Linked DNA regions of Homo sapiens. The protein of the gene in region 2 purifies or fractionates together with the protein of the main gene of each other region. This does not show direct contact. Each region holds a gene or a part of one and is shown on either strand. Other genes may lie near its edges.

Region 1 (3,500 bases), on a different chromosome or scaffold from region 2:
TAAAAGAATGCGAATAAAGAAGTGGTAAGAGATTAAAGTGAAGAAAGGCTGTAGAATACTATACACTGATTGGCAATATTCAATTCTGTGCTTCATGTTGTTATGGAATAAGGTAACTGTTCTGTCTTTGATATAGAAGTATATTGTTCTCGCTGTTCGTATTACTACATTATGTTGGTTAAGCTGGCGAAAAGTACATTATGATCTTTGGAAAAATGAAAGTTATTAATATTTAATTAAAATAGTTTTAATTTATTAATAAGATGTAAACTTTTAATCTTTCAGACCAGTCTTTGAAGTGGTGAATTAAAACAATTTGTAATTTTTTTTCAAAAGGTGGCCGCTGTTCCTCCAACTCCCCAGCCTTTAGCTCCTACACCTTCAGCACCCTGCCCAGCTACTCCTGCTGGACCAAAGGGAAGGGTGTTTGTTAGCCCTCTTGCAAAGAAGTTGGCAGTAGAGAAAGGGATTGATCTTACACAAGTAAAAGGTAAATCTGTTTCTATAGAATGGACTTTATAAAGTTAAAATTTAGTTGAATTTCCTCCTTAAGACTTGCAAGTACAACTATGTATAGCCGTACTTATAATTGGGATAGTAGGGACAATCATTAATAATTCCTTCAGAAGGGAGAAATAGTTCTTTTGTTGCCACCACAGAGTAGGGAAACTTTTACTGAGCTTTATTTACTCTGCCTAGAATCTACCCATACACTTTAGATACCTTTTTTTTTCCTCTTCTATTCATGGAAACTGCTTGTTTGGTGAAAGTATATGTAAAATTTGGTTATGGGACTTGATTATGTAATAAGAAACCTCTGTTAGTGCTTGGTTGACTGTAGCAATAAGCAAAGCAAAATAAAATTTGAAGTTGGGGTGATTTGGAATGACTTAATAAAATTCATATAAAACAGAACTAGAGCTCCCTGAAGGCAAGGGAAAACGCCTTACTTGTCTGTCTGCCGCCAAAGAAAAAATATAGCTTTGTGATAAGAGCATGGGGCCTGGAATCAGACCACCTAGCATTTAATCCTGGCTTTATAATTTTCTATGTAATATGTTTTCCAGTGAATTACTTAGATTGTATGTCCTTATGTCAATTACTTTTCTATCTGTAAAACTGAGGTACTGTACATCGTATAGATTGTGAGAGTTAAATGAGCTATAACAGGTGAAGTGCTTAGAACTGTATCTAGCATATAAGTACTCAATACATGTTAGTTGTCATTCATATTGATATTACTGCCTGGTGCTTAAATAAGTTTTTTTGAATTAAACTTAAGCTAAAATTTAGTGTAGGATAACTAAGGTACTTATTTGGAATGGGGGGAAGTTATTATGCTTGGAACTTGGTTTGATGGCTTGTACTATGTGTCAGTCATTTAACTTACCATACTTAATGTACACAACACTTCTTGAAGTAAGAATTATCATTCCTTATTTTCTGGATAAGAAAACAGACTCTCAGACTCTTCAGGGTTCTTCCTTCCTGTTAAATAGTAAAGTTGCAGTGTAACTCTAGATTTGTTTAACTCTAAAGCCTGTTTCTTCACACTACCCTATCCTGCCTTCTGTTTTGATGCTCTGCCATCCATAATTACTAAAGAAAAATATGCTTATTTCCCCAATTTTCTAGTTATGGGTACTCAATGGTGGTTATCCCGTATCTGCAATTTGCTATCTTGTAGTTAGAAGTCAAGCCAATCCCAAGACACAAGAGTAGAATGTTGTAAATTTTTTGGACCTCAGAGATTCTTGTAATATTGGAAGATTCTTTTTTTTCCATCTTAATGCCATTTCAGTAGTATATTGCTATCATATATGTATATATGATTAGAATCAGGGACAGCAGTGTAAGTTGGAGTAACTTTTAAAGGGAGAAAGGACTGGGTTAATAATTATATCTAAAGAATTTAGACAAGCAAAGAAGGACCATTTATTAGATATTCAGCAATACTCGTTACCTTACTAAAGATATAAGTGGAAAATCCCTTAGGTATGAGCTGAGAGGAGTGTTAAAAAAAAAAAAGAAAGAAAGAAAATCCCACTGTTCTTACTATGCAGGCAGAGTTAGGTGATAAATATCATCGACTGCTATCTACACATCAGACACTTGTTCATCAGATGGATAAGATTTCAGTTTCAGTTGCTTATATGACCAACAATAAAGAATTAAATGAACAGAAAGGGAGTATAGCATAGTAGTTAAGAGTGTGAGCTCTGTAGCTGGAATGCTTGGGTATGAACCTCAGCTCTTTATACTAGCTGTGTGACCTTTTGTGTCACAATTTCTTTGTATATAAAAACATTAGGTTTAATGGTTGTGAGGTTTAAATAAGTTAACCAGTGCCTGTACAGAGAAAGCATATCTAGGTATTAGCTATAATGATAATAATATTTTTGTTATTAAATAAGATGATTTGAGTGCTAAGAAAGAAAGAAACTCAGTGATATACTAGTGAGTGAAAGGGTGAATGGATATATGTGCAGTCATGACTACTTTTAGACAGGTTGGTTGGGAGATCTTTTTGATGAGGTGACATTTGATTTGTTTTGAAAGATAAGAAGGAGGCAGCTTGAGCCAACCATGTGAAGAACTGGGGAAAGATCATTTTGGATAGAGAGACTAGCTGTACACAGTCTGAAATGGGAAAGAGTTTAGCATGTCTGAGGAACATAAAAGAGGCCAGTGTTGGCCAGGCGCAATGGCTCACGCCTGTAATCCCAGCACTTTGGGAGGCCGAGGCAGGTGGATCACAGGTCAGGAGATGGAGACCATCCTGGCTAACACGGTGAAACCTCGTCTCTACTAAAAATACAAAAAAATTAGCTGGGCATGGTGGCAGGCGCCTGTGGTCCCAGCTACTCGGGAGGCTGAGGCAGGAGAATGGCGTGAACCTGGGAGGCCAAACTTGCAGTGAGCCGAGATAGTGCCACTGCACTCCAGCCTGGGCGACAGAGCAAGACTCCGTCTCAAAGAAAAAAAAAAAAGGCCAGTGTTAATGAAGCATAATGAGCAAAGGGTCTAGTAGGAGATGAGATTGGAAAAAAACAGGGATGAGAACATAAATGACCTTATAGATTATGGTAAAGAGTTTGAATTTTATTTAAAGTACTTGAGGAAGCCATTGAGAAATTTAAGCAAAGAAGTGAAATAAAATGATTATGTTTTGAAAAGATCATTTTGGTTGCTCCATGGAAATGGATGAAACGTTTATATAGTTTATGTTTGACAAGATCCCTACTTTTTGTTACCCATAGTCCAGTGTTGTTCCCTTTATACCATATTGCTTTATGATGGCCTGTTGTGCCGCCCAAGAGAGATAGGGAAAAGGGTTTACAAGGTTTCAACTAACTCCTAAGTCAGGAAATTCTTGTGGGTGGCTGAAGCTTAGCATAAGGCAGGTGGTACTATGGATTTCCTCCTCTTGAGGGACTGTGGTGTCTAGATCAGCCTTGGTTGTAAGGGGAGGTTATGGTTTCTGTCTTTTACAAAGGAGA
Region 2 (4,012 bases):
CACTGGGCTATTGAGGAATGTCTCTCGGCTGCTGGCGGGGCCGTCTGGGCCTGTCTGGGAAGTGGAAGCCATCGGCAGTCTGAAACATGACCACATTCCACCCAGCGGGCCTGGCGGGACCCTGGGACCCAGGGCCGGGCTTGGGGTGGTGGGCAGGGCAGGGTGGGGCTGTGGGGTGGGGCACATGGCCCACCTGAGGAGCCACATCTTGGGGAGCCTGGAGTGGGAAGGGGGCTGGCTGGGGTCTCTGTAAGAGCCTCTTCTTGGGCAATGTCCTTTAGGTTTCCTGTGGGCTGAGACCTGAGATAAATACCCGTCACCTGACCCTGAGGTCTCTTGGGGTACAGAAGGGTGAGGGGAGTGGAAGGGGGCATCCCCCTCTCAGTTGGCACAGCCCACCATTTCCCCATCCTATAGCTGAGCCCCTGTTTGCCCACCCCAGCCTGGAGTGTAAACCTGGGGAAAGGTTTACACGAAGAGACTGGGTTAGCAAGGATTTCTAGGGATGGGGCAGGGTCAGAAGCTGACTGGATGGAACTGTAGCCCCTAGAGTGCATTCCTGGGTGTCAGGCTCTGCAGAAGGGGCCAGTGTGGACACGGCACCCCTCTGGAGCCCCAATTTCTTTATCTGTGATGTGGGTTGGTCTCCGAGGCTTGATGGCATTTCTATGCTGTGAGGTGGGCCTGGTGGGTTTGGGCTCAGTTTCCAAGGCAGGATAGGCTCTCGGTCTCCTCTTTCTCTTCAGCACCCAGCCCCGGGGCCAGCACCGTGGGTGGAGCAGTGTGGGGTGAAAGACAGCAACTTTGGCGGGGGGGTCAGCTGACACTGCAACCCATTTCCCCACCAGACAGGGTTGAGGCGGGCCAGGCTGGGGTGGTGGCTGCCTGGGAGGGCCTGGGGACGGTGACGTCCTGCCTTCTCCTCTTCTCCGTATTAGGTCATGGGAAAGCATAGCTGGAGGGCCCGCCTGAATCACAGGTGACGGGCCTGAGACCAGAGGCACGCACACGCACGGCACTCAGCACGAGGATTTGGAGAAATGAGGCAAATTCCTGATGATGGGCGGGGAGGGGGCCCCCAGCCACCTGGGAGCTGGCAGGTGGCCAGTGGTGATGAAAGCCCAGGGGAATGGAAACAGAGGAGCAAGCCTGTTGTAATCGCTACGCCCACTTGGTGGCCTATAAAGGAAGCGGGCGAACCCCGGCAGCCCTACACAACTTGGGGCCCCTCTCCTCTCCAGCCCTTCTCCTGTGTGCCTGCCTCCTGCCGCCGCCACCATGACCACCTCCATCCGCCAGTTCACCTCCTCCAGCTCCATCAAGGGCTCCTCCGGCCTGGGGGGCGGCTCGTCCCGCACCTCCTGCCGGCTGTCTGGCGGCCTGGGTGCCGGCTCCTGCAGGCTGGGATCTGCTGGCGGCCTGGGCAGCACCCTCGGGGGTAGCAGCTACTCCAGCTGCTACAGCTTTGGCTCTGGTGGTGGCTATGGCAGCAGCTTTGGGGGTGTTGATGGGCTGCTGGCTGGAGGTGAGAAGGCCACCATGCAGAACCTCAATGACCGCCTGGCCTCCTACCTGGACAAGGTGCGTGCCCTGGAGGAGGCCAACACTGAGCTGGAGGTGAAGATCCGTGACTGGTACCAGAGGCAGGCCCCGGGGCCCGCCCGTGACTACAGCCAGTACTACAGGACAATTGAGGAGCTGCAGAACAAGGTAGGGCCTGCTGGTGGGAGGGGTCTCCGGGGGGCATGACTTCTTCCCCCCAACTCCTGCCTTGGCCAAAGGCCTGGAGTCCAGCCATAGGGTCTCAGGGAGCCAAGGGTGGTTTGGCTGTGGCTTAGCTTCTGGGAACCTGCCTTGGGGCCCCTGTGTGGCTCACATCCCCCTTTTCTGGGGACAGCAAGCTGAGTCAGGAACAAAGAGGCCTTGTGGAGCCCCTTGGAGCCTCAGTTTCTCCCTCGTGGAGCTCCGCCACCTGGAGAGGTTGTAGGATGAGGCAGGAGGATGCAGATGGAGGGCTGGGCCCGTGGGCTGCTGGATGTGTGGTGTCTTGCTCCTTTGGAGCAGGGGTCAACAGGAGGGGGTTTTGGGTGATGTGGAGTGGGGGTGTCTGAGTGAGCTCCTGATAGCACCTGCTGCAGGAGGAGGCAGAAAGGAGGGGGCGGGACCTCAGTGTGGGGAAGGCCTCTGATGTGCCTTATTTGGGGATTTTTCTGGCTTCTCCTTTCCTCCTGCTGTCCCTTAAGACGGGCTCAGCAAACCCCAGGGGGCGGGGCTGCTGGCTGGCGCCCAGGGTTAGGGATTAGGAGGGGTCCTGACTTTTGATTTGGAACCACTCTTTAATGAGGGCTCCTTTAGCCTCCTTTTGGGGGAGCCTGTCAGGGGCACCCTCTAGCTGACTGTAAAACGAGGGGGTTGCCCACATCCCCTCCCTTGTTCTAGAATTCTGGGACAGCTTCTGCCCTGGGGACATTTTCCCATTCTTTTCTGGTTGCCTCATACTCCCAGCCAGCTGTCTCTTCTCCTTTAAGGCCGAGCCTGCCATGGGGGTCTGGTGGGGTACTGAGTATCGGGGGAAGAAGAGGCACCTTTCAGCCCTTCAGACTCCTGTTTGCCCCTCCTCTGCCAATAATACAGCACGGGGCAAGGGAGGGGCTGGGCGAGAAGAGAGGCCCTGAGGCAGGAAGATCTGCTCAGAACCCTGGTGTGGGCTCAGCCACCCCCATCCAATGACCTGACTACTCTCCCTTCTCCTCAGATCCTCACAGCCACCGTGGACAATGCCAACATCCTGCTACAGATTGACAATGCCCGTCTGGCTGCTGATGACTTCCGCACCAAGTGAGTCCTAGCTGTGGCCTTGGGCAGCCTGGGCCAGCTGGCGGAGGATCTCAGGGTACCCCTCCTGACCCCAGGATTCCTTGGTTGCTTGTGGCAAGGCCCAGGAGCTCAGGGTGGGGCAGTCCTAGGAGCCCCACTCCTTAGTCCAGGATGCAGTGAAGGCAGCCAGTTCTGAAGGTTGCTGAGCTTAGGCAGGGAATAGAAGAGAAGGAGGGGAGGCGGGAGGCGGGAGGCAGAGAGAAGTAAGGAAGCTGGTGGGCGTGGGATCTGGCCCTGTGATGGTCCCGGGGTCCCGGGGCTGGAATTCGTTTCCACTCGACCCTCTCATCAGCCCTTCCAACTCCTTAGAGTCCTGGCAAAATGAAGGCAGGTGAGCAGCCAGGACCTGGATCTGCAGGTCCAAGCAGCCTGGGCTGAAGTCTCTGATTCCCACGGCAGGTTTGAGACAGAGCAGGCCCTGCGCCTGAGTGTGGAGGCCGACATCAATGGCCTGCGCAGGGTGCTGGATGAGCTGACCCTGGCCAGAGCCGACCTGGAGATGCAGATTGAGAACCTCAAGGAGGAGCTGGCCTACCTGAAGAAGAACCACGAGGAGGTGAGGTGGCTGGGGCAGAAGGTCAAAGATGCTGAGGAGTGGGTGGCAGAGCCCTGGGGCTGGGCAATGGCTGAGGCCGTGGGAGAGAGCAGAGCAGGTGCACCGGGATTAGTCACCTTAGAGGGCTTCCCTGTCTGCAGAGCCCTGATCCTTGGGGTCCAGTGTGCAGGGCAGACTCCTCTTTGTACCACACTGCTTCTCTGTACACAAGGAACCTCCCAGGGGCCTGCAGAGGCTCCCTCTACCTACCCTGCCTCCCTCATGAGGGTGGGGGATAAGTAAGGAAATCTTGTCCCATTTCAAACTCTCAAAGCTGAACATCTACATAGAAGCTTGGAAATTAGAGGGGAACTTTTGGGGGCATAGGCCTAATAATTAGATTTTATTTTGGAGAGTCCTTGGTCTAATGGGGGAGATAGAGTCTGATGGTGGAGGCAATACTGAGCAGATGAATAAAAATCATTTAGAGGGTCAGATAGAGCAGAGGGAGAACAAAGGAGGGGTCCTTGTGGGAAGTGGGGTCCCCTTGTGGGGGAAGGCTTGGGAGTGAGAGGTCAGGATGGGTCCAGATGCGCACAT

What was found. Proteins that work in one complex are often made in the same cells at the same time.
Region 1: the proteins of KRT17 (region 2) and DLAT purify together in Homo sapiens (affinity purification with mass spectrometry, with the first as the bait; one large-scale study listed by BioGRID). This does not show direct contact.

What each region holds. Positions count from the first base shown.
Region 1 is NC_000011.10:112,038,908-112,042,407, forward strand, and holds part of DLAT (dihydrolipoyllysine-residue acetyltransferase component of pyruvate dehydrogenase complex, mitochondrial isoform 2 precursor), read left to right. Parts: intron 1-336; coding exon 337-490; intron 491-3,500.
Region 2 is NC_000017.11:41,621,776-41,625,787, reverse strand, and holds the start of KRT17 (keratin, type I cytoskeletal 17), read left to right. Parts: upstream 1-1,212; 5' UTR 1,213-1,278; coding exon 1,279-1,710; intron 1,711-2,755; coding exon 2,756-2,838; intron 2,839-3,276; coding exon 3,277-3,433; intron 3,434-4,012. UniProt on the Homo sapiens protein: Type I keratin involved in the formation and maintenance of various skin appendages, specifically in determining shape and orientation of hair. Required for the correct growth of hair follicles, in particular for the persistence of the anagen (growth) state.